Homo sapiens: one gene and its partners. The protein of the gene in region 6 purifies or fractionates together with the protein of the main gene of each other region. This does not show direct contact. Each region holds a gene or a part of one and is shown on either strand. Other genes may lie near its edges.

Region 1 (3,500 bases), on a different chromosome or scaffold from region 6:
TCTTAACTTCAAATGATTGTCTTTTGATTTACTCTAGTTCAAGAGTTCTCAGTTGGGGGTGGTTCCCCCCTCACCCCCCAGGAAACATTTGGCAGTGTCTGGACATATTTTTGCTTGTTACACCTCTGGGAGTGGGCAGTGTGCTTCTGGAGGGTAGAGGCCAAGGATACTGCTAAACATCCTACAGTGTCCAGCATAGCCTCCTCCCTGCCCGCCAGCAAAAGTATCCAGTCCCAAATAGCAACACTGCTGAGGTTGAGAAATCCTGCACTTAGATAGATGTGAGACTGGCCTACATTAGAATAAGCCTGCATTAGAATAATTAGAAATTTTTTAAGACCATGGATGTTGGACTCCACCTCTGGAAATGGTGGGATTGAGAATCTTATTAATTTTTTTTGAGATGAGTCTAGCTCTGTCGCCCAGGCTGGAGTGTGGTGGTGCCATCTCGGCTCACTGCAACCTCTGCCTCCTGGGTTCAAGCAGTTCTCTGCCTCAGCCTCCCTAGTGGCGGGGATTACAGGCACCCGCCACCATGCCCGGCTGTTTTTTGTATTTTTAGTAGAGATGGAGTTTCACATCTTGGCCAGGGTGGTCTTGAACTCCTGACCTCGTGATCTACCCGCCTCGGCCTCCCAAAGTGCTGGGATTACAGGTGTGAGCTACCATGCCCGGCCACGAGAATCTATTTTTTAGAAGCTTCTCAGACAATACTGAAATGCAGCTGAATTTTGGAACCACTGTTTTACACCACAGGTTTAGGGACTGTTTGTGAGTTAAGGGTTCCTTTCGGTGATCTGTGAACTTGGTCTTTGCAGTACCTAGATCCTGCCTTGGAGATTATTTAGTAGTGGGGATTATTTAGATGGTATACTTAACCATTTTTCAGATGCCTGAAGACTGAACTTTAGAAGCATTTGTTAATTGATTTTATAAAATATCTTAGGACTTTTTTTTCTTAACCTCATGAAAATACATTACCATACTGTGCTGAAACTAAGCAAAATTCTTAGATATTTAGAGTTTGCTTCTGTGCTGAATAATCTTACACTACTGTAATTTTTGAGTTAGTATCTTTTGCCCTCCTTTTGTCAGTCAGTGGTCAGGTCTGGTTTTAGATGCCAGCTTCAACTTTTTTTTTTTTTTTTCGGAGACAGTCTCACTATGTCACCCAGGCTGGAGTGCAGTGGCATGATCTTGGCTCACTGCAACCTCCGCCTCCTGGGTTCAAGTGATTCTCCTGCCTTAGCCTCCTGAGTAGCTAGGATTACAGGTGCGTGCCACCACACCTGGCTCATTTTTGTATTTTTAGTAGAGATGGGGTTTCACCATGTGGGCCAGGCTGGTCCCGATCTCCTGACCTCAAGTGATCCGCCCGCCTCGGCCTCCCAAAGTGCTGGGATTACAGGCGTGAGCCACCATGCCTGTTTTTTGTTTTTGTTTTTGTTTTAATAAAGACCTATTCCCAGAGAATTAGCCCTGGATCAGTTTACCAGTTCTGCCCATTGAGGGCACAGATAGGCATACAGTATGCTCAGCCTTTAACACAGTGATCCTGCCCACTGGTAAGTTGGACTCTTCTGTGCCCTAGACTCTGATCCCAGCAGAGAAGTGTTCTTTTCTCCTGGGGAGATGAGATGCAGTGGTAGAGAGAAGGGTAGATCTTTTTTGCTCATATTAAAATTTAGATTATCTAGTTTATGGAATGGAAGAATATTAGGAAAACTATAAATTTTTAGCAGCTAAATGTTAATATCTGAAGTTACAAAAGGTCATGGAGGCATTTTCTTATTCTTCATCCTGAAATTCGGCCTGTGCCTATGTTGAGAACTACCAGTGACCACCATCTACTTCTAATATCCATTTATTTCATCAGCAAATACATTAATTGAGTCCTTACTCTGCTAGGAACTGTATTAGGGATTCACTGATGAACAGGCCCTTAAGGACCTGCAGTCTAGAGGAAGAGGCAAACAAGAGACGACAAAGCTGTTAAGAATTGTACATGGTGTCAATGGGGCCTGGGAGGAAAGAGCTTCTGTTTGCTGGTCAGTTGGTTGATTTGTTTAAACTTTGGGTGGTTGAGATTGCCAGAAGTTTTGCAAAAGAATAAGATAGTTACACTTTGTTACTCATTTATAAGAAATGATTACTTCGACTTGCCTCCTTAGTTTGAGGAGTCTTAAAAAGCAGTGCCATTCTTCCCATACTGAAGCCGTTTTGTAATGACAGATAGCTGTTTATAGCTCCCTACACAACAGTTATCCTTTGACCAAACCTCAGACACTGACTCTCTGGTTCCAGACCCGTCCGAAGCTTGCTGTAGGTTTTTGCAAAATGTTTCCGGCATTCTTGAAATAGATGCTACTTCAAGTGGGAGGGGGTGTTTCTCCTGCTGCATTATGGATCTAGGTTGACTGGAGATTTTGTTTTGGCCTTTTGACTTTGGCTTAGATTTATTTGTCATGGAAGCCCCCTTTCCTACTTCTCACCCCCTTTAGTTTTATGAGGAGGGAGATAGTTGCTAGTTAGATCAATACTCAGTTTATTTCAGGTATTGAAAGATTACAGACTGACATTTGGATACCAGGTAGGTTGGCTACGTGGTAAAGAAGCAAGTAAAAGGGCATTTGACAGTATGTGGAAAGGTATCTTATCTCTATGCCTAGCTAGGACATTTTCTTTTTTTTTTTTTTTTTTTTGTTGAGACGGAGTCTCGCTCTGTCACCCAGGCTGGAGTGCAGTGGCGTGGTCTCGGCTCACTGCCAGCTCTGCCTCCCGGGTTCACGCCATTCTCCTGCCTCAGCCTCCCCAGTAGCTGGGACTACAGGGGCCGGCCACCATGCCCGGCTAATTTTTTGTATTTATTTATTTATTTTGAGACGGAGTCTCACACTGTCGCCCGGGCTGGAGTGCAGTGGCGCTATCTCGGCTCACTGCAAGCTCCGCCTCCCAGGTTCACACCATTCTCCTGCCTCAGCCTCCCGAGTAGCTGGGACTACAGGTGCCTGCCACCACGCCCGGCTAATTTTTTTTGTATTTTTATAGAGATGGGGTTTCTCCGTGTTAGCCAGGATGGTCTCCATCTCCTGACCTTGTGATCCGCCCGCCTTGGCCTCCCAAAGTGCTGGGATTACAGGCGTGAGCCACCGCGCCTGGCCATTTTTTGTATTTTTAGTAGAGACGGGGTTTCACCGTGTTAGCCAGGATGGTCTCGATCTCTTAGTGAGCCGCCCGCCTTGGCCTCCCAAAGTGCTGGGATTACAGGCGTGAGCCGCTGCACCCGGCCCTAGCTAGGACATTGTCATGTCACAGACTGGGCAAAGAGCTGGCTTTACCCTGAGTAGAGGCTATTTACTAATTGTCACTTACGGCTGGCTAGAGTTGACCTGTTTTAGATGCATTAGTGAAGACTATACAGTTGACTGAACTTATGCAATTAAAGTTCGATAGGTTCTGAACATCTTTTTACAGATATAAGGAGGCTCTGATTTTGTACT
Region 2 (3,500 bases), on a different chromosome or scaffold from region 6:
TCCCAGTGCTTTCGGAGGCCGAGGCGGGCGGATCACATGAGGTCAGGAGTTTAAGACCAGCCTGGCAAACATGGTGAAACCCCGTCTATACAAAAATACAAAAATTAGCTGGGCATGGTGGCATGCGCCTGTAATCCCAGCTGCTAGGGAGGCTGAGGCCGAAGAATCGCTTGAACCTGGGAGGTGGAGGTTGTAGTGAGCCAATATCCCGCCATTGCACTCTAGCCTGGGCGACAGAGCGAGACTCTGTCTCAAAAAAAAACCAAAAAACAAAAAACATACTTTCAATCTTGTTATTTCTGCATAGCTGAGTGCTAATTTGTAACTATTTATTATGTTTTAGATTATTATCTTTATAGAGCTCAGAGAACTTAATGTTTTTGTAAGGAAGCCCTTGGTTTACCTTCTTCCATTAAAGTTTGTGTAATTTTATAGGGTTAAGTATAGCAGATAGTTACACAGCAGGGAAACCTAAGCTTTTCAGTGGCTTATATTTCATTGTTATAAATTTGATACCTCTATCTTTCGTCTACTATCTGTGGCAACCATGTCAAGCTTTAATTATCTTATAAATGCATGCAATTTTATTTTACCATTATTTCTAGGAAATAGCTTCATTTAGTCCTTCAACAAATAAACTATTGTAGTAGATGTGGAGGTTCTGAGGATGAATAAAGCATAACCCATATTCATAAGGAGTTTGCAAAAGAATGCTACTACAGGCTTTTAATTTTATTTTGAAAATTAATATTATTCATTTTCTTTTTTCTTTTTTTTTTTTGATGGAGTATCACTCTGTTGCCCAGGCTGGAGTGCAGAGGCGTGATCTCGGCTCACTGCAACCTCCGCCTCCCAAGTTCAAGTGATTCTCTTCCCTCAGGTTCCCATGTAGCTGGGATTACAGGCCTGTGCCACACCTGGCTCATTTTTTTTGTATGTTTAGTAGAGATGGGGTTTCACCATGTTGGCCAGGCTGGTCTTGAACTGCTGACCTCAGGTGATCTGCCCACCTCGGCCTCCCAAAGTGCTGGGATTACAGACGTGAGCCACTTCGCCCAGCCTCCATTTAATTTTTTTTAGTTTACTGGTAGTTATGTTCCTTTGGTATCATTCTTTTTTTTTTTTTTTTTTAGTTCCTTTTTGTAGAGATGGTGTCTTGATATGTTGCTCAGGCTGGTCTCGAACTCCTGGGCTCAAGCAATCCTCACCTCTGCCTCACTAAGTGTGGGGATTATAGGCATGAGTCACTCCGCCCGGCTGGATTCTCATTGCTTTCTTATATGTGTGCACTCTCATAGCAACTAGCCTTGTGGCACCCATTAAAACAACACATTCACACAAATGCATTATTCACTGATATACCAGATTTCTATCTTGTCACATAAAGCTAAAAAGAGACATTTCAGTTGACTCATTTTCAGACATTTGAAAGTTAAAGTGTATTTTCAGTTCACCTTATGGATTTTGTTTTTTGATTAGGACAGTTTATTAAGGCTGTTTTCTCCAAATTTCCAAACTTCTGATTGCATACCAGCTCTTTTGTTATCTTTTTTCTCTAATGCTGCTTATTTGCATTGCATCCAGAGTTTTATATTTTTGCTACCATAGGCTTGTATGTTTGATTTTTTTTTTTCTTTTTCTGAAAGACTCTTCCTTTTAAGGAAGGGCCTAGGGGCTGTGGGGAAAAAAGTGATTACTAATACTTTCTCTTCAGAATGAAACTCCAGGATTCCCTGGCTGTTATTTGCTAGAGTTGGATCTGTACCTATTTAGATCCTAATTTAGGGTTTGGCACATTATGGCTGGCAGGCTAACTAAGTGGCTAAGAATTAATGGGTTTTACATTTTTAAAGGGTTGGAAAAAAACAAACATGATATGCAAAGCCTAAAATATTTCATATTTAGAAAAAGTTTGCCTATCCCTGTCTCACATCACAGCAAGACTGAAAAATAGAGTTTTCACTAAAATATCTATATGTTTTGTTGTTGTTGTTGTTCTAGCATTTGGTGGTATGGGATTGGTAAACAATTAGCAACAACTTTATATCATCACTTTTCTTTTGTATAAAGTCAGTTTTCTATACATCTTGCAACATCAGAGCTGTTAAAGGGAGTGCAAGAAAAACTTATAGATGTCTGATCAGAACCTAAATCAACACCGTTCAAGATAATTTTCCGTGGAGATAGAAGTGCTCTCTATCTTCATTGCCCACATGGTAGCCACTAGCCACACTTAACTATTGAGCACTTGAAATATGGAAAGTATGACTAAGGAACTGAATTATAAATTTTATTAATTTTAACTAATGCAAATTTAAACCATGTTTGGCTCGTGGCTATAATATTGGATATTGTAGACCTAATTTCTTTTTTTTTTAAGAGAGACAGGGTCTCGCTTTATCATCTAGGCTGGAGTACAGTGCTATGATCAAAGCTTACTACAGCCTCAAACTCCTGGGCTGCAAGCAATCCTCATGCATCAGCCTCTTGAGTAGCTGGGATGTACCACCATGCCGGCTAACTTTTAATTTTTTTGTAGAGACAGGGTCTCACTATGTTTCTCAGGCTGGTTTTGAACTCCTGGGTTCAAATGATCCTCCTACCGTGGCCTTCCAAAGTGCTGGAATTACAGGCATGAACCACTGTGCCTAGCTAACCTAAATTGTTTTAAGTTTTAGAAATTTTTTTTTTTGGTAATACTCTAGGATAGTCTCAATAAATGTTGATAGATATTATTTTCTTAATAAAACTGAAATGGAATAGTGTGTTTGAGATTATACAGTGATAGTAGTTCATATTTATTTCTTTAACCATTCTTATATGCAGACAACAGTTGATATTTCTACTTGGTGTGAGCAGTTTGCAACTTTTTGTTCAGAGCAACTGGACGGGGCCCCCTGTTGACTTACACCCTCAGGACTTTTTGTCATCTGTTTTGTTCCAGCAATTCAGTGAGGTATGCTTCTTGAAAATGTTGTATGTAATTATTATTATGTTATTTATTTTTTATAAGCAGGTCTTTATAAACTGGAACTCATAGTAGGAAAGAAACATGACTTTATGGTTTGCACAAAAGTACTAAGAATGCTTGTTCATTGATCAGATTTTCACAGATTTCCAGAAGTTCCTTTGTCAAACTCCTCTTCATACACACTCCATTTTATGGAGCTGTGTTAGCTGTGTTTTTTAATGAAAGTACAGACAGCTGCACCAGTTGTTTAGTTGGTTGTATCACCTCAGTTACATAAAGATTTTTTTTTTTTGAGATGGTATCTCACTCAGTCATCCAGGCTGTTGTACAGTGGCTGGATTACAGCTCACTGCACCCTCAACCTACTCAGGCTCAGGCGATCTTCCCACCTCAGCCTCCCAAGTAGTTGGGACTACAGTTGCATGCCAACATGTCCAGCTAATTTTTTTGTAGAGATGGAGTTTTGCCATGTTGCCCAGGCTGGTCTGAAACTCCTGGGCTCAAGTGGTCTGCCTGCCTCAGCCTCCCA
Region 3 (2,272 bases), on a different chromosome or scaffold from region 6:
GTCAGTGCCTCATGTGCCGATGGGATTGAATGCAACCATTCCAGATGTGTGGTTTCTGAAAGTTCCCAGAACTTTCAGAGGTTGTCAAAGTCCCCCTCCAGATGAGGAATACACTGCTGTTCCTCCCATCGCATGCTCTTTTCTGGGAATGACTCAATTCAGAGGTACTAATTCTGGTTTTTCTTGTTTAGGACCAGTGTGACCAACGCCCAGCCACTGCAACCAACCATGTGACAGAGGGGATTCCTAGACTGGATTCCCAGCCTCAAGAGACCTCACCAGAGCTGCCCAGGAGGCGTGTCAGACACCAGGGTATTTATTAGCCAGGACTCAGCCAAGGCCGCAGGTCTACTGCTGGCTCCGGCCTGTTTACCACTTCCCATCCACTGCTCTAATGTGGGGATTACCTGCATCTCAAATTTCCAAACACACTAGGGTCTCATAGGGGACTCCTCTGCAGGTAGTTGTGGTCCCACATTAGACTGAGCTCTCTCAAGTGTGTGATTTTTAGGGTAATGGCTTTGCGGACATCCATGAGATACATGTAGTAGTAAGTGCTTGTAATAAGTTTCTGGTTTCCTATCTGTGCACTTAGTGGATTATTTGTAGATAATTTGCAGACCTTATGGTAGCTACCCTGGGCCCCCATTTCAAGTTGAAATACACTTAGGGTACTCAAACCTATTATTATTATTTAATTTTTTTGTAGAGACAGAGTCTTGCTCTGTCACCCAGGCTGGAGTACAGTGGCACAATCATAGCTTACCACAGCCTCAAACTCCTGGGCTCAAGTGATCCTCTCTCCTCAGCCTCCCAAGTAGCTGGAACTACAGGCACACTCTACTACACCCAACTAATTTTTTTGTTTTTGTAGAGATAGGGTCTTGCTATGTTGCCCAGGGTGATTTCGAACTCTTGGCCTCAAGTAGTCCTCCTGCCTTGGACTCCCAAAGCATTGGGGTTACATGCGTAGGCCACTGTGACCGACCTCAAACTTATTTATTTAATTTATTTTTTTTAGACAGGGTCTCTTTGTCATCCAGGCTGGAGTGCAGTGGCGTGATCACTGCAGTCTCAACCTCTTGAGCTCAAGTGATTCTCCCACTCTTAGCCTCCTGAGTAGCTGGGACTATAGGTAGGCTAGGTGCCCACCAACACACCCAGCTAATTTTTAATTTTTTTTTGTAGAGTTGGGGTTTCGCCACATTGTCCAGGCTGATCTTGAACTCCTGGGCTCAAGTGTTCCTCCCAGCTCGGCCTCCCAAAGTGTTGGGATTACAGGTGTGAGCCATCACACCCAGCCTCAAACTTATTATTATTACTTAAGACCATCATGTTTAGGCAAGTAAACTGTTTTTGAAACCTCACCACTACAAAGCCAATTAGAAATTATTTTTTGGCTGGGCATGGTGACTCACACCTGTAATCCCAGCACTTTGGGAGGCTGAGGTGGGCGGATCACAAGGTTGGGAGTTCAAGACCAGCCTGGCTGACATCATGAAACCCCGTCTCTACTAAAAATACAAAAATTAGCCGGGCGTGGTGGCGGGCGCCAGTAGTCCCAGCTACTTGGGAGGCTGAGGCAGGAGAATCACTTGAATCCAGGAGGCAGAGGCTGCAGTGAGCCAAAATCATGCCATTGCACTCCAGTCTGGGCGACAGAGCAAGACTCCATCTCAAAAAAAAAATTATTTTTCAAGGTTTGCTTGCACACTATTGTTGAATAGTTAGGAGGCTGTCTTTGAGGACTCAGATAATATGTGCAGAATTGATAAAATATCCCCATCTCTGCCCTGGAGATGTGGGTTCCAGCAGCCTTTTGGGGTGAGCAGTTGTCTTTTTTTTTTTTGAGACACAGTCTTGCTCTGTCTTGTCCAGGCTGGAGTGCAGTGGCATGATCTTGGCTCACTGCAGTCTTCACCTCCTGGGTTTAAGTGATTCTCCTGGTCTCAGCCTCCTGAGTAGCTGAGACTATAGCTGTGTGCCACCTCACCTGGCTAATTTTGTATTTTTTTTTTAGTAGAGATGGAATTTCACCATGTTGGCCAGGCTGGTCTCTAACTCTTGACCTCAGGTGATCCCCGCACCTCGGCCTCCCAAAGTGCTGGGTTTACAGGCATGAGCCACCACGCCTGGCTGAGCAGTTGTCTTCTATCTGGAATCTTTTTGTTCCTGCCCTAAACCTGGCACTATAGCCAGAGCAGGCTTTTTCCTAAAGCTGTTACCATTTTCTCTTCTCAGGAGACCTGTCTTCTGGTTACCTGGATGATAC
Region 4 (3,500 bases), on a different chromosome or scaffold from region 6:
CGTGCAAGTTTGAGAAACACCGGTTAACAGATGAGACAGGACAGTTAGAAGGAAGGACAGAGCCAGCCAGCAACTAACTGTAGCCCCTTGGCATCACACAAGAAACCCGGGATTCTCTGTCTCCTTGTGAAGATTTGCATCAGCTCTCTTTGAGGTTAGAGAAGGCAGCTGCTGGAAGAGGAAAGGGGTTTATCTGGACCAACTCTTCTGCCAAATCCATGTGCTGGAGTTTGTTGTATGATCACTCTCCTGAGTTTCCAGCTGTCCCTTTTCATGAGTCTCCTGGTCAGTGGCTGGGAAGGAAGGGGAGCGGGAGACTCGTGGATTGTCTTGAAAATCACTGGCCAAGTCAGGAAATGCATGCCTTCCTCTTGGCCTGTTTCTGGTATTGACTCTTTGGTTACCAAGAAACACAAACCCAGCTAGCTCAAGAAAGCATGTATATTATAATAAAGGCTATCTCAAAAAAAAAAAAACTATAAAAACATCCTACAAGAGCAGATGTTAGAGGCATTCTCTAAAATCAGGAGCGAGACAGTATCACCAGTTTCTATTTGGCATCGTACTGGAGTCTTAGCCAGTGGGTTTTCGTTTTTGTTTTTGTTTTTAAAGAAAAGACGAGAGATAAATTAAAGGTATGAGAATCAAAAAAGAAGTGAAACTGTCATTATTTGCAAATGGTAAAAGTCTATATGGAATACCCCCAAAATATCTACAGACAAATGAATAGAATGACGGGAGAGGTTAAAAAGATGTCTGGATGGGGTTTCACCTTGTTGGCCAGGCTGGTCTCAAACTCCTGACCTCAGGTGACCCTCCCACTTTGGCCTCCCAAAGTGCTGGGATTACAGGTGTGAGCCACTGTGCCCAGCCCCCATCCTCTTCTATCATTTTTAAAATCTCTTCTCCCATCATAAAATTAATTTCTCTCATATTTTTTGGTCAGGTAGAATTGGGAAAGTCCCACACTCTCCTATTCTCGTATTACCTTAACATCCCAAGCTTCCTTTCCTTTTTTGGTCTTTATGAATATATTTATATGGACAGAATTAAGATAAACAAAATTGATTTCCCCATTCTCTCACTTCCCCATCTTGTCTTCCTAGACCCCACAGAGTTAAAACTTGGGACTCCCCCGACCCTCCCAGAACACTTGTATATTGTTTGTTTGAGGTTCGTGCCGCAGTAACAGACACAGTATTTGATTGCACATACAGATGTTTGCTGGGTATATTCACTGTACATTTTATTTAATCTGGTTTTTTGTTTGGGGGTTATTTGGGGCGAGGTTGGTTTTGTTTTTAAATATTAAAAAAAATCTGTCAAAAAAAGATGTCTGGAGATAAGATACAGAAGTCAACTGTATTTCTATCAGCAATAATAAAAATATGTACATATTTTAAAACACATTTTTAAGAATAATTTTAGATTTACAGGAAAGCTGCAAAGATAGAGTGTATGTATATGTGTTTGTGTGTATGTGTGAGTGTATATGTATGCCTGTATGTATACATATATATTTTAAAGGCACCATTTGCAGCAATAACAAAACTATAAAGTACTTCAGAATGAATCCAACAAAAGATACACAAAACACGTGTACAGAAAATTACAATTTCACTGAGAGACATCAAGGAAGGATGTATAAGCATCCAGGGGCAACTCACAGACCCCACGAGTGGGAGGTTCTCCTGAGCCTCATGAGCCCTGGGTGGTGGCAGCCATTTCGCCACCTGTTCAGAGGCCACATAGTCTTGCCTCTCCACTTCTCTTCATGGTCCTGGCTTGGCATAGTGCAACCTGGTACAGTTTTTCCTATCACTACCTGGCATTTCTTATGGAGGAGAACCCTTCCTGGGCTCTTCTCAGGCATTTGACAGTCTTCATCCCATACCATCCCATACCATCCCACACATGGTAAGTGGGGCTGTCCCTTTCCAGCACCTTTGAGCCTCAGTGCTTTGCACTGCCTCATGTGGTCCTCAGTGCATCAGTATTGGCTTCTAACTTCACAGGAATAAGGAAGGCCTCCACAATGCCAAAGAAATCCTGACCCGCCTGGGAGTGGAGCCGTCCGATGATGACTGTGTCTCAGTCCAGCACGTTTGCACCATTGTCTCATTTCGCTCAGCCAACTTGGTGGCTGCCACACTGGGCGCCATCTTGAACCGCCTGCGTGATAACAAGGGCACACCCAGGCTGCGGACCACGGTTGGTGTCGACGGATCTCTTTACAAGACGCACCCACAGTGAGTCTGCCCTTTGCTATCATTGGCACTCTGTACCCATTGTGGGTAGGGACCTTCTCCAGAGATCAGACTTTTGTACCCGGTAAACGTTTTTCGGCAGACAAGACAATGGTGGTCGGGGGCTGTGGCTCATGCCTGTAATCTTAGCACTTTGAGAGGCCGAGGCAGGAGGAAGGAGTTTGAGAACAGCCTGGGCAACATAGTAAGACCTCATCTTTACGAAAAATTGAAAATAAATAAATAGATAAATAACATGCTTAGTTCTGGGCATAAGGTCAGCGTCGCCCCCTTGGGAAGTATCGCCCTTAGTCGATTCTTGCTGGTATTGCTTCTGCACTCTGTCGTTACCTCGCCCTGTCAAAAGTCGAGATGGAGATTTCTGTAGCTGTCGGCTCCTCTGGGTGGAATGTGTCTGTCTCTCGTCCGCATTTCATCAGGAGGACCTTGGGTCATAGGTGTGGTACCCACATTCTTGTTTCAGAAGCTCCTGTTAAAACCCCCCAAACCCTCAGACTTTACTTTTTTAAATGGGCAGCTTGTCTGTGCTTGGCCTCTGAGAGCTGGAGCTGCAGGAGCTGTAAGTTGTCCCCATTGGCAAGGAGGTGCTTTGTTCCCCACACAGCCTTCTGGTCTGTCAGTGGCCCCAGCCAGTCCTCATGCCATCTCACCTTAGTTTTAGAAGCCATGTTGTCCTGTGAGAACGTGGCTTATACTTTTTTTAAAAGGCTAAAGGGAAATTCTAAGTCATTATTTAATAAGTTTTAATGCTAGCCTGTGACATGATTGTTTTGCACAGGACCTCAGAGTTGTTTCCCACTGTACATATAAATACAATGTGCATGTGAAGCACCCATGTCAGTACTGCACCTTCACACCCAGTTCTGTTGATGGCTCAAAGAATGTCGACTTCAATTGAAATAGTTCTGGCCTGGCATGGCAGCTCACACTTGTAATCCCAGCACTTTGGGAGGCTGAGGCAGGTGGATTGCTTGAGCCCAGGAGTTCGAGACCAGCCTGGGCAATGTGGCTCTACAAAAAATCATACACAGCTGGGTGTGGTGGTGTGCCTATAATCCCAGTTACTTGGGAGGCTGAGGTGGGAGGATCACTTGAGCATGGGGGTGCAGAGGTTGCAGTGACCTGATGTGCCTCTACACTCCAGCCTGGGGGACAGAATGAGCTCCTGTCTCAAAAAAAGAAAGAGAGAGAAATAGTTTTGTGTTGCTGAGGGGATAGGGTTTGAGCCAAGGA
Region 5 (3,500 bases), on a different chromosome or scaffold from region 6:
TCCTGACCTCAGGTAATCTGCCTGCCTCAGCCTCCCAAAGTGCTGGAATTACAGGCATGAGCCACCACACCCGGCAATTTCCTGGTTTTGATAAACTACAGTATGGCTTTGTAGGATGTAATCATTGGGAGATGCTAGATGAAAGATACATGGGAATTTTCTACTATTTCTGCAACTTTCTCTAAGTCTAAAATTATTTCAAAACAAAAAGTAAAAAACAATGAAAAGCAGGCCGGGTCCAGTGGCTCATGCCTGTAATCCCAGCACTTTGGGAGGCCGAGGCAGGCAGATCACAAGGTCAGGAGATTGAGACCATCCTGGCTAACATGGTGAAACCCTGTCTCTACTAAAAATACAAAAAGGTAGCCGGGCGTGGTGGTGGGCACCTGTAGTCCCAGCTACTCGGGAGGCTGAGGCAGGAGAATGGCGTGAACCTGGGAGGCAGGGCTTGCAGTGAGCCGAGATCGCGCCACTGCACTCCAGCTTGGGGGACAGAGTGAGACTCTGTCTCAAAAAAAAAAAAAAAAAAAAAAAGGCAGTCAGTGAGGTAGGGAGCAGCAGCCCCTGAGGGGTAGACAGTGATCCAAGCATCTGCTGGAGCTCACACCCTGGATTCTGACTGCCTCATACCCACCATACTGTTAGGACATGCTTCCATTACCCAAGGGACTTTGATTCCTGGCCCCATTCTCTGCTTCCTGAAAGACTAGCTAACACTACGCGAGGGTTCCATGAAGGGCCTGTGGGGGAAGGTGGGTGGACTGCTTATCAGCAGTGGCTACTGTAGATGGTGCCCAAGGATGCACCAGGCCTTACTGTGCCTGGCTAAGGTGGGCTTGAAACATTGGCTGGTCTGTGAAATGCCCTTGGGGGACGGTGTCCAGACCCTCTGCTTTGTGACTAACATGCAGACTGAATAAACTGCATGTTTATTCCAGGCTCGTTTAGCTGGACGAGCAGTACAGACAGGGCTGAGGCTGACTCCATGGCCATGTGGGCAGAGGTCAAACCCATGATCTCTCTTCCTACAGCTTCCTAATGTCTGCGATGTTGGTCTTTTGAAGGAGGCCCCCACAGAGCTGAGCTTGCTTGGTTATCTGGGACTGCTGCTCAGTCTGAGTAGGGGAGGGTAATGAACCAGTCAGGCCTCCTCCTGGAGGTGCCCAACACTGGCCTAGTCCCCAAGGCTGACGAAACATGGTCTGGCCTGACCCCAGGACGTGGGGTGAGGAGGAACACTGGGCATAATATAGTAGCGGAAACAGGCAAGCCTCTATGGGTCCCTTCCCCTTAGAATTTTAGGGTAGGGAACGAGGAGGCTACAGACTAAATTGCAGAACTATCTGCACCTGGGCCTCTGAGCTCTTCCTCCACTCCCAGTGGAGCCATTCTGGGGACTGAGTTGCATGAGGACTAGCAGAGGGTGGCAGTTCAGTCTGGTCCCTGTCTTCTTCCAGCCAGCTGTGTTCTTAGCTGCCATACTTCTGAGCTTCCTGGGAACATGAGAAAGTCTGGCGACTATGGGGGATGGGGATCATTCTGAAGGAAATAAGGGACCTCCATCCCTCCTTGCCTTGAAGGGGGTGGAAAGGCAGCTCCTCTCCTGAAGGCTTGTTAGCAGGTTATGGGCCCACAACAAAGGGGCCAGAGTAGGGCGAAATTCCTCCTTCAGGTTTTGGGGCTGAGAAGGGGTCTTCATGGGCTGTGAGGAGGTAAGCAGGCCTGAGACTGGGTAGAGATGGGAGCGGCATGAGGGGAAGGTAAGTCAGTTGCCATGCCACAGCCAAGGGGCCTTTATTGGATGGTGAGGGCACATAGGAGCAGGCAGGTGGCTGCTAGATGGTGTTGCACACCTTCTCAGGGTGCAGTGGTGCCCGGATGTCCAGTCTGCGAGTCTTGCTGTCCTTGTCGATGATCTCCAGACGCAGCTTGGGGAGGCGCTTCTCAGCCTGGGGTGAGGGCAGTTCTGGGCTTTTGAGTAGCTGCTTGTCTGAGTCCTCCACCGTGATGCGCAAAGTACAGCCCCCTGGCAGCAGGTCCTGCTCATAGGCTGCTGCCAGCTGGTTCACCACACGGCGTTCTACCTGTCGGTGGGGAGGTGAAGTGGTCACTCCCTCGGCCTGGACCCAGCTTGGAGGTCGGCCTCCATCACTTACTGCTAGGGCAACTCAGAGACCTCCTTTGAGCCTGAGCCTCAGCTTTCTCATTTGCCAATTGGGGCTAATAACAGCTAGCTCGCAGGACTGCGCTCAAGTTTCTGAGGCTCCCAGCCCAGTTCCCTGGTCCTAGTGGGGTTCATACTGGGCTACCCTCCAGCAGGGGTTTTACTTGGTGATCATGTGTTTATGGTTCTGAATGGGCATCCACTCTGGGTGTGAATATCCAGCAACCAAGCTATAGGGAGGCAGGCTGAGAGCTCAGGGACTGGGTCTGGGGGGCCCTGGGGAGGGAGGTGTGGAGGCGCCTCATTTCTCAGGCTCCTGTGCTCACCTCATGTTTGATGGAGCGGGCGCCATAGTGCACATTGTAGCCGTCGACCAGCACATCTGCCACCTCGCGGTCCCAGAGCAGCGTGATGTTGTGCCTTTGCTTGGCCTGAGATGGGTCAGATAGAAGCATGCCTGCATGTGGCCCACTGCTTTCCATCTCTTGCCACTCTGGCCTGAGGCCAGGGCCACTGGCCCCACACCACTGTGCTCCACCTTTTATGTGTGTGGGGGTGCCCCCAGTCCAGTGTTCCAGATTTCCAGTGGCTGGCTATCCCGCCCCCACCCATGGGCAGTTCCCTCTTACTCTCTTGGCCCAGAAGTTTAGTTCCTTGTTGACGAGTTGGATGAGCTCCGAGTGGCAGAAGGGGAGGAAGTAGACGATCTCATTGATCCGTCCCAGAAACTCATCCCTCCGGAAGTGAGCCTGAAGGGCCAGGTTAGGGGTGGGATGAGCTCAGTGACCCAGAGCGGGTTAGGGAAATTACCAGACACCAGGGGAAGACTGGGGAAATTATGGGGCTTCCAGATCTTTAGGATGGCTAAGATCACCCTCCCCCAACCTTAGGCTCCAGCAGGAAGTGCCAAGAAAGACCTCTTACTTTCAGGATAGGGCGAATCACATTCTCCTTGAAGTTCTTTGAGATGGTGATCTTGTCACTTATCTGGACATCCCCTGTGGAGAAGAATCATAAACTGCTTATTCCCCACATTCAGGGAACTTTGGGGGCTGTGCCTGCCCCTTGGCCTGCCCATGGAAAGAGCCCTGGTCCTGTCCATCTGTGTGGTCCTGGTCAAGGTCTAAGGCTCTCTGGGCTTCAGCCTGGTCTCCTCCTCTGACCAGGCACTTTCGGAGGCCTTTCCAGCTCTCAAGTGTATGAAGTCTGCGATTCCTCAGGGTGGGAGTTGTGTGAGGGAGGGAGAGGAGAGGAAACGTCAGGATTAAGACTTGAGTCCTGACTTGGAGGAAGGGGGCTGCAGGGCTCGATCTTGAATGGAAAAGGTGACAGACAC
Region 6 (4,115 bases):
CACCTGCCTGTGGACGTGGGGTCCGGAAAAGCCTCTAGCGGGGAGTGAGCTCCAGCCCTCGGGGATGATGCCAGAGCCTGGGGCAGCTCCAGCCCTGCCACAGCTTCACTGCCTGTTCGTAATGGGTCACGTCCGTGCCCTGGGACTTGTCTGTGAAACACAGGGAATGATTAACTGGTTTCCGAGGGTTTGTCCAGTTCTAACATTCTGTCCTCTGCACTTTATACAGGATTTTAATTTCGATTTTAATTCCCCAAACAGGTGAATGGGGGAGGGAAGGGGGAGATCGTCACAGAGCCACAGCACCTCTAAGGAGGGGTGAAACCGTGATGGGATGTCAGGAACACAGAAGCACCCCAACCACTCTCCATAGGAGGCAGACCCCCGCCCCGTCCCACCAAGGGGAGGTGACCACCCGTGGATTTCCAGACTGAATCCCATCCTGCCATCTGCCCCCAGATACAGAAATGGAGGCCCAGAGAGTGGGTGTCATGTTCAGGATCATGCCACACACCAGGGCAGAGCTGAGCTAGGACCCAGCCTCCTGTCTGCCACTGGGGGCTTTGTACCCTCTCTAGCACATACCTGGAAGTCTGAAGCTTGGAGATGTGGTCCCTCAGGAGGGAAAGCCCCTTCTGAATATCCTGTTTCTGTTGGGCCCCAATCACAGCCCTTGCTCTCCCCGCCAGGGGCTGCGGGCCACTCTGTGGGGCAAGGGTAGGGTCCGGGTGCCCACACAGGAATGGGCCCGGGGTAGGTTGGGGGCTGGATCTGGGTTGCCCTGGGGAGGTGGGAGACACAGCCCACCATGACTGGTGGAGGTCTAGGTTCTGGGCCCTCCCTGAACTGGTTAAATCCGGGCGTGTGAGTATCGGAGGAGCCACCGGCTCTCCAACTGGCGCCCCTGACTTTAGCCATCTGAGACTCCTCTCTCCAGTTCTCCCAGATACGCTAGGCTCAAGCCCTCAGCCCGGCTCCCAGAGCCTCCGCCGGGAGTCCACGCCCGAGGCAGGGGTTGGGTGAAGGGTACTGAGTAGGTGCTGGGAGCCCCGTCACCAGCACCCTGCTCCCAGCTCCGTAGCCAGAGCAAACCCTCTCCCGCTCCCCGCGGGCGTTCGCGGCCGGTCGGCCCCGGCGTGACTGCGCCCCCATTGGCAGGAGGGGCTCTGCCGCCCGGGCCCCCAGTCCCCGGGCCCCCCACCCCCAGGGCAGCACGTGCGGGGCGGGGCTGTGGCCCGAGCCCGGAGCTGATTGGGCGCGGGCCTGGTGGGCGGGGCCGGGCCGCAGCTGTCAGAGCCGCGGCGGCGAACGAGGCGCAGCGAGCTGAGCGGTGGCAGCGCCGCAGCCGGGGCCGGAGCGCAGGAGCCGACGGGGCCCGACCAGGATGGTGCAGTGGCGGCTCCGCGGCGCACGCACGCGCTGAGCGGGCCCAGCCTGGGCCCCGCGCCCCCCGCGCCCCCCGCCGCCCCGATCCGGGCCGGCATGATGTGCCTGGAATGCGCCTCGGCGGCGGCGGGCGGCGCGGAGGAGGAGGAGGCGGACGCGGAGCGGCGGCGCCGGCGCCGGGGGGCGCAGCGAGGGGCTGGCGGTAGCGGTTGCTGCGGGGCGCGGGGCGCGGGCGGCGCTGGAGTCTCGGCCGCGGGCGATGAGGTGCAGACGCTGTCGGGCAGCGTAAGGCGGGCCCCGACCGGACCCCCCGGCACCCCCGGCACCCCCGGCTGCGCAGCTACTGCAAAGGGCCCCGGCGCTCAGCAGCCCAAACCGGCCAGCTTGGGCCGCGGGCGGGGGGCAGCCGCCGCCATCCTCAGCTTGGGCAACGTGCTCAACTACCTGGACAGGTACACCGTGGCAGGTGAGCGAGTGCCCCACCCAGCCCGAGGACCAAGACCCCACCCCATCCCACCACCCGCCTCGAGGGAGGTACCCCAGAGAGCTTTTGGTCTCAGGCCTGCTATCTCCAGGCCCTACGTGAGGTCCCTACGGACCCTCTGCTCAGGCACAACTGGGCAAGGGATGCCTCCGTGCACCACGGGTACAATCCAGCTCCCCGCTCATACACACCCGGGGCCAAGGGATAGAGGAGTCCCCACCCCTGGAGCAGCCCGCGCGTCCTCTCCAGCCCTTGACGGCCCATCCGTTGTCCTCCTCTCCAAGAGTCTCCTCTGCGTCTCTCTGTCTCCTTGTCTCTGCGCCCCCTCCGACCCCAGCTGCCGGTTCCCGGGCCTCCTTCCCTTCCCTTCCCCCAGCCCAGGTCGTCTGTCCGTCCATGGCCCGTCAGTTCCTTCCTTTCTCCGCCGCCTCCACCCCCCTGCGTGCGTGCGGCGAGTGCGCGCGCCCCTTGCGGGTGTGCGCTAGGGAGACCGGGTGTGTGTGCGCGTGGCGGCGCGGTTGTGTGTGAGCGCGTGGCTGACAAAGGCTCCGGGCTGCGGGGAGCGGAGGGAGGGGCGGGGCGGGTCCGCGGCGCCTGGGGACCCAGGCTGCGGTTTGCAGCTGGCCCTGTACAGAGGCCTGGAGACGCCTCCCCCTGCTCTATGGTGCTTGGGGTGTAGGGTAGGGCGCAGGCCTCTGGAGCTAGAGACGTGGAGCCTCATCCTCAGGGAGCATCTCTGGGAATCAGCCTTGGGGACGGGATTGGGATCGATAGAACAACTGGGTTCTAGCCCCAGCTTTGCTCCTAATGTGCTTGGTGTGTGACCTTGGGCCAGTCTCAGCGTGTGTTTAGGTCTGTTTGCCCGTTTGTGAGTTGATTGATCATTGGGCCTTTGGGGGACGCACGTGGTTCTGGAATTGCCTTCTGCTGGCTCCCTTCCCCAGCAATTAGGGGTGGGTCTAGGGGTAAGAATTTGCCCTAGACTGAGCTGCTACTGGTTGGGAATGGTGGAGCTTTGAGAGGGAAGGACTTTGGCCAGACTGGCATAGGAAGGGGCTCCCTGCAGGAGGAGAGCAGTACTGTGTGCCTGGCATGCTGGCCCAGAACCTGCGTAACTATAGCTTAGTAAAATCTGGAGCTATCAAACACACACACAACAGAGAGAGAGAGGAGATAGGAGAGAGGGAAGGATTTATTTTTGGACAGACTCTAAAGAGAACTTTGCGGCAATTGAGGGAAGAGAGCCCGGGCATAAACCACATGCCACCTGGTGCCTTCTCTGGGCCTCAGTCTCCCCGTCTGTTGAATGGAGTTTTGTGTCAAATGGAAGGGAAGAATTCTGATGGGAGGGCAGAGGCTTCCCCCTCCCCCCATTCCTGCTTTCAACCCCCCTTGGCTCTCTGTCCTTCCGCTGGAGGAAATTGGAAGTGGGTACCAGTGGCATCAGTTTCTGGGTCGAGCTATCCCAAAGAGAAACTTACTTTGGTCTAGAGAGCAGGAATATTGAGCACCTCCCAAAAACGCCAGCCGCTGTCACGCATGCACCATGCTGCCGGGGACCTGGGAGCATAAGCGCCATCCTTTGGGGGAGAAATCAGAGAATACCTGGGACCTGTAGTCAGTTCACAAAAGGCTTCTGTACACAGATAGGGGGACCAATGTCCCTGTACAGCCCCCGTTCAAGATGGCCAGGAAAGTGACTGGCAAAGCTGGTGTTAGCTCTAACAGTAAGGCTCTGCCTGGGAGGAGGTCTTCCCACCCTTTCTCAGCTGAAGAAGGAATGGTACTACTTCTGGCACTGTAGCGCTCTCCAACTTGTTTTTTTTCTGGCCCCAGACCACCCCCTTTGACGTTCTTAGGGGAACTGCCTCTGCCAGGGGCAGAGCCAGAGAGGGTGGGATCAGGGAGGGCTGGCACTTATCTGCTCCCACTTCTACTCAGGTCTCTGAGTCAGATTGTCAGCATGGGGGAATGAGATAGGAAATTTGTGGTGAATTGGTAAAGGGAGGTGGGGAGTGGTGGCTAAGAGGGGCGTGGGGCAGTTAGGGAGGAAGGCCCGGAAAGTCCTGTGCAAACACTTGCCTGGGCTGTGCCTCCCTCCCTCTCCTGGCCTGGAGTGGGAGCTCACACACCACCCCACCCCCAACACACAACAGACACAGGTTTCCTCTCCGGATAAGCCTGGTTGCCCCTCTCTCTATGGTAGATTTCCCCATCTCCACTTCCCCAAGTTCAGTTTTTAGGA
Region 7 (3,500 bases), on a different chromosome or scaffold from region 6:
ATATTTGATCTTAGTTGCACTGTATCAGTATGATCTATATATACAGAGAAGAATAATTTGTAGAAGGTAATATTAGAAAGATACAGGCTGGGCATTGTGGCTCATGCCTGTAATCCCAGACTTGGGGAGGCTGAAGTGAGAGGATTGCTTGATCCCATGAGTTTGAGACCAGCCTGAGCAACATAATGAGACCCTGTCTTTACCATAGAAAAAAATTAGCTGGGGATGGTGGTGTGAGCCTGTAGTTCCAGCTACTCTGGAGGTTGAGGTGGGAGGATCACTTGAGCCCAGGAGGTCAAGGCTGTGGAACCTGATCATGCTACTGAACTCCAGCCTGGTTGACAGAATGAGATCCTGTCTCTAAAAAAAAAAAAAAAAAAAAAGATACAGCTTAAATATTAGGATATCCTTTAATTAAATAGAAATAACAGGAAAAGCTTCATTTTGAAGACTGTAGGAGAGTCAGCAATATTGTCATGTTTTAATTACTATTTTCAAACTAGTTATATTCGTCTCTTCTCACATAAAGATACTACTCGAGAATGGGTAATTTATGAAGGAAGGAAATTTAATGGACTCACAGTTGTGCATGCCTGGGGAGGCCTCAGAAAACTTACAATCATGGTGGAAGGGGAAACAGGCACGTCTTAAGTGGTGAGAAAAGAGAGAGGGCATGTGAAGGAGGAACTGTCAAACACTTACAATCTTAGTGGTGAGAAGAGAGAGAGAGGGCATGTGAAGGAGGAACTGTCAAACACTTACAAAACCATCAGATCTCATGAGAACTCACTCACTATCACAAGAACAGCATGGGGGAAACCACCTCCATGATTCAGTCACCTCCCACCAGATCTCTCCCTCATGGGGATTGTGGGGATTACAAATTGAGATGAGATTTGGACGGGGACACAGAGCCAAACCATATCAGTAGTTAAAATGATCTTGAATATGTTCTGAGAAAGAGTTTAAGAAAATAAATTTTCTTTCCTAGCTGGTTTCTTTCTTTTAAAAATTTATTTAGAAAGATTATAACCTAACTTGAAAATACAGTTAGTTGGTTTCTAGAGAGCTTCAAGGTAACTTAATTTTTATTGTACTATATATCTATCAGTTAATTATTTTCTGTAGCTAGTCACTTTTGTTGATTATATTTAATTAGTATCAGGCCCCATATGAATTTATATTTCTATTAGTTTATTTGCTCTGTTCTAGCTTCTGGATTTTAGAAAATAGGATTTGACTATTTTGCAAATATATGCCATTGATCATGAAGAGGACCGTTTTTTTTCTACTAGAGAAATTTAAAGTTTGAGGGTCAGAAGGATCTTGTGTGTATGTGTTTTATGTGTCCTTTTGAGTTGTGTGTTTGATGAAAATACCTCCTTATTTAAAATGCTTGGAATCTTCTAGCTTTAGGAGAACTTGTTAAACAGTAGAGACAGTTTTACATCAATAAACCTATATATTACACTTAAACTTCTAGCTAGTTATAAATTAGATTCTAAGCAATTCAAACTGACAAGTTTTCAAGTTATAAGGGTGTTTCAAGTTAAAAAATTAAAAAATGTAATTATTTTATAAACTAGCTGAAATGTTTTGATTGCAGGTTGGAATTTTAAAGTAAATGTGGCCTCTGCAGTGATTTGTTAATTTTAACCAAAGCTACTTTATTTTCTAGGTGTTCATTGTACTCATGGCTTCAATCGCACTGGTTTCCTCATATGTGCCTTTTTGGTGGAGAAAATGGATTGGAGGTATTTGTATCTTGTTATAATGGAAGATGTATTTTGTAATAAAAAATTTTATTGATATTTTAGTTGCAGAATTTTGTATTGTCAAGTTTTTGGTGAACTCATGATTAATGTAATTTGAACTGCTTTTCATTTTAGATATGGTTAATCTTTATACTACCATTACTTGGTGTGTGTGTGTATGTGTGTATGTGTATATATGTATGTTTTGTTTTGTTCTTTGAGACAAGGTTTCCTCTGTCATCCAGGCTGGAGTGTAGTGGTGTGATCATGGCTCATTGCAGCATTCACCTCTTGGGATCAAGCAATCCTCCCGCCTCAGCCTCTCAAGTAGCTGGGACCACAAGTATGTGCCACCCATGCCTGGCTAATTTTTTCTTTTTTGTCTAGTGAGGAGGTCTCCATATGTTACCCAGGCTGATCTTGAATTCCTGGGCTAAAGTTATCTTCCACCCTTGGCCTCCCAAAATGTTGGGATTACAGGCATGAGCCACCACACCCAGCCAGGTGTTTTGCATTAACCAGCAAATCACTTTGAGTGCTTATGAATTTCATAAACTGTATATTCACTTTTTCAGATTTTTTTCACCTCTTACAGAATTATCAGAGACAGATTCTTCCAATATTTTGTATTTTAGTATTTTTGGGAGAGTGTTACTCCATTTAAGCCAATCAACATGTCTTTATTGAGCATCTGTTATTTTTGAAGTGTGTTTTTAGATCCTGAGAGATTACGACTTTAGTACCCAATATTCTTAAGAGAATATATTACTAACTGAATTTTCTTGTTGACTGAGGGAGCATCATTATTTATGTTTACAAAGATTTTCACATAGTAGGTCCTTTTTTGAATATAATCAGTTGAAGTACACATATGATTTTGAATTTTGCAGTATGCATTGTTGGTGGTTCTGTACTGCATGTACTTTCTAGCTCTGACCATTCAGATGCTCTCCACAATGATCTCAGTTTCCTATGTCAGATTTAGCCTATGCTTATCCTCTCTTTGATGATCTAGACTCTTAGTGCCTGGATCTGTTGAAAGTTCCTGTAAAATCAATATGCTTTTACTTTGCTCACATTGTTGTTTTTTTGACTGATGTTTTGCTGCAGAGTCAGACCTCAACCTTCAAGACTAAATTCTTCACAGACCCTATCTAGGTCTCTACTATATACTCATAGCAATTTATTTTTAGAATTTCAGAATTTTCTGAATACCTTATATTAAAACCTTTTCAGAATGAATGTGTCCCTTAATAGATTGAATGACTTGAGGGTGAGGATTGTGATTTGCCCATTTTATAAACTTCTGTTGTACTTTATATGGAGCCTTGAATATAATAAGTGAGTTTTTGATAAGCCTGCATAAATAGAGGATAGCGAGGAAATTGCATGGTGTTTGTTTCCTATAGTATCGAAGCAGCAGTTGCTACTTTTGCCCAAGCCAGACCACCAGGAATCTACAAGGGTGATTATTTGAAGGAACTTTTTCGTCGGTATGGTGACATAGAGGAAGCACCACCCCCACCTCTATTGCCAGATTGGTGTTTTGAGGATGATGAAGACGAAGATGAGGATGAGGATGGAAAGAAGGAATCAGAACCCGGGTCAAGTGCTTCTTTTGGCAAAAGGAGAAAAGAACGGTTAAAACTGGTAATGTTTAAAAATATTATAATAGGTTTTTTTTTTCCTTTTTCTGCAAGCTTATTGAGATTTATAAAAATGGAATATTGGCCATGTTTCTTTAGC

Evidence for each region.
Region 1: the proteins of SPNS2 (region 6) and PPP6R3 purify together in Homo sapiens (affinity purification with mass spectrometry; one large-scale study listed by BioGRID and IntAct). This does not show direct contact.
Region 2: the proteins of SPNS2 (region 6) and TTC27 purify together in Homo sapiens (affinity purification with mass spectrometry; one large-scale study listed by BioGRID and IntAct). This does not show direct contact.
Region 3: the proteins of SPNS2 (region 6) and TRAFD1 purify together in Homo sapiens (affinity purification with mass spectrometry; one large-scale study listed by BioGRID and IntAct). This does not show direct contact.
Region 4: the proteins of SPNS2 (region 6) and HK1 purify together in Homo sapiens (affinity purification with mass spectrometry; one large-scale study listed by BioGRID and IntAct). This does not show direct contact.
Region 5: the proteins of SPNS2 (region 6) and CLPB purify together in Homo sapiens (affinity purification with mass spectrometry; one large-scale study listed by BioGRID and IntAct). This does not show direct contact.
Region 7: the proteins of SPNS2 (region 6) and RNGTT purify together in Homo sapiens (affinity purification with mass spectrometry; one large-scale study listed by BioGRID and IntAct). This does not show direct contact.

The regions. Positions count from the first base shown.
Region 1 is NC_000011.10:68,463,752-68,467,251, forward strand, and holds part of PPP6R3 (serine/threonine-protein phosphatase 6 regulatory subunit 3), read left to right. Parts: intron 1-3,500.
Region 2 is NC_000002.12:32,631,050-32,634,549, forward strand, and holds part of TTC27 (tetratricopeptide repeat protein 27), read left to right. Parts: intron 1-2,826; coding exon 2,827-2,956; intron 2,957-3,500.
Region 3 is NC_000012.12:112,149,560-112,151,831, forward strand, and holds part of TRAFD1 (TRAF-type zinc finger domain-containing protein 1), read left to right. Parts: intron 1-191; coding exon 192-312; intron 313-2,241; coding exon 2,242-2,272. UniProt on the Homo sapiens protein: Negative feedback regulator that controls excessive innate immune responses. Regulates both Toll-like receptor 4 (TLR4) and DDX58/RIG1-like helicases (RLH) pathways.
Region 4 is NC_000010.11:69,377,847-69,381,346, forward strand, and holds part of HK1 (hexokinase-1), read left to right. Parts: intron 1-2,015; coding exon 2,016-2,249; intron 2,250-3,500. UniProt on the Homo sapiens protein: Catalyzes the phosphorylation of various hexoses, such as D-glucose, D-glucosamine, D-fructose, D-mannose and 2-deoxy-D-glucose, to hexose 6-phosphate (D-glucose 6-phosphate, D-glucosamine 6-phosphate, D-fructose 6-phosphate, D-mannose 6-phosphate and 2-deoxy-D-glucose 6-phosphate, respectively).
Region 5 is NC_000011.10:72,291,532-72,295,031, forward strand, and holds part of CLPB (mitochondrial disaggregase), read right to left. Parts: intron 3,163-3,500; coding exon 3,089-3,162; intron 2,914-3,088; coding exon 2,794-2,913; intron 2,596-2,793; coding exon 2,491-2,595; intron 2,085-2,490; coding exon 1,836-2,084; 3' UTR 1-1,835. UniProt on the Homo sapiens protein: Functions as a regulatory ATPase and participates in secretion/protein trafficking process. Has ATP-dependent protein disaggregase activity and is required to maintain the solubility of key mitochondrial proteins.
Region 6 is NC_000017.11:4,497,566-4,501,680, forward strand, and holds the start of SPNS2 (sphingosine-1-phosphate transporter SPNS2), read left to right. Parts: upstream 1-1,315; 5' UTR 1,316-1,482; coding exon 1,483-1,852; intron 1,853-4,115.
Region 7 is NC_000006.12:88,904,619-88,908,118, reverse strand, and holds part of RNGTT (mRNA-capping enzyme), read left to right. Parts: intron 1-1,678; coding exon 1,679-1,754; intron 1,755-3,163; coding exon 3,164-3,404; intron 3,405-3,500.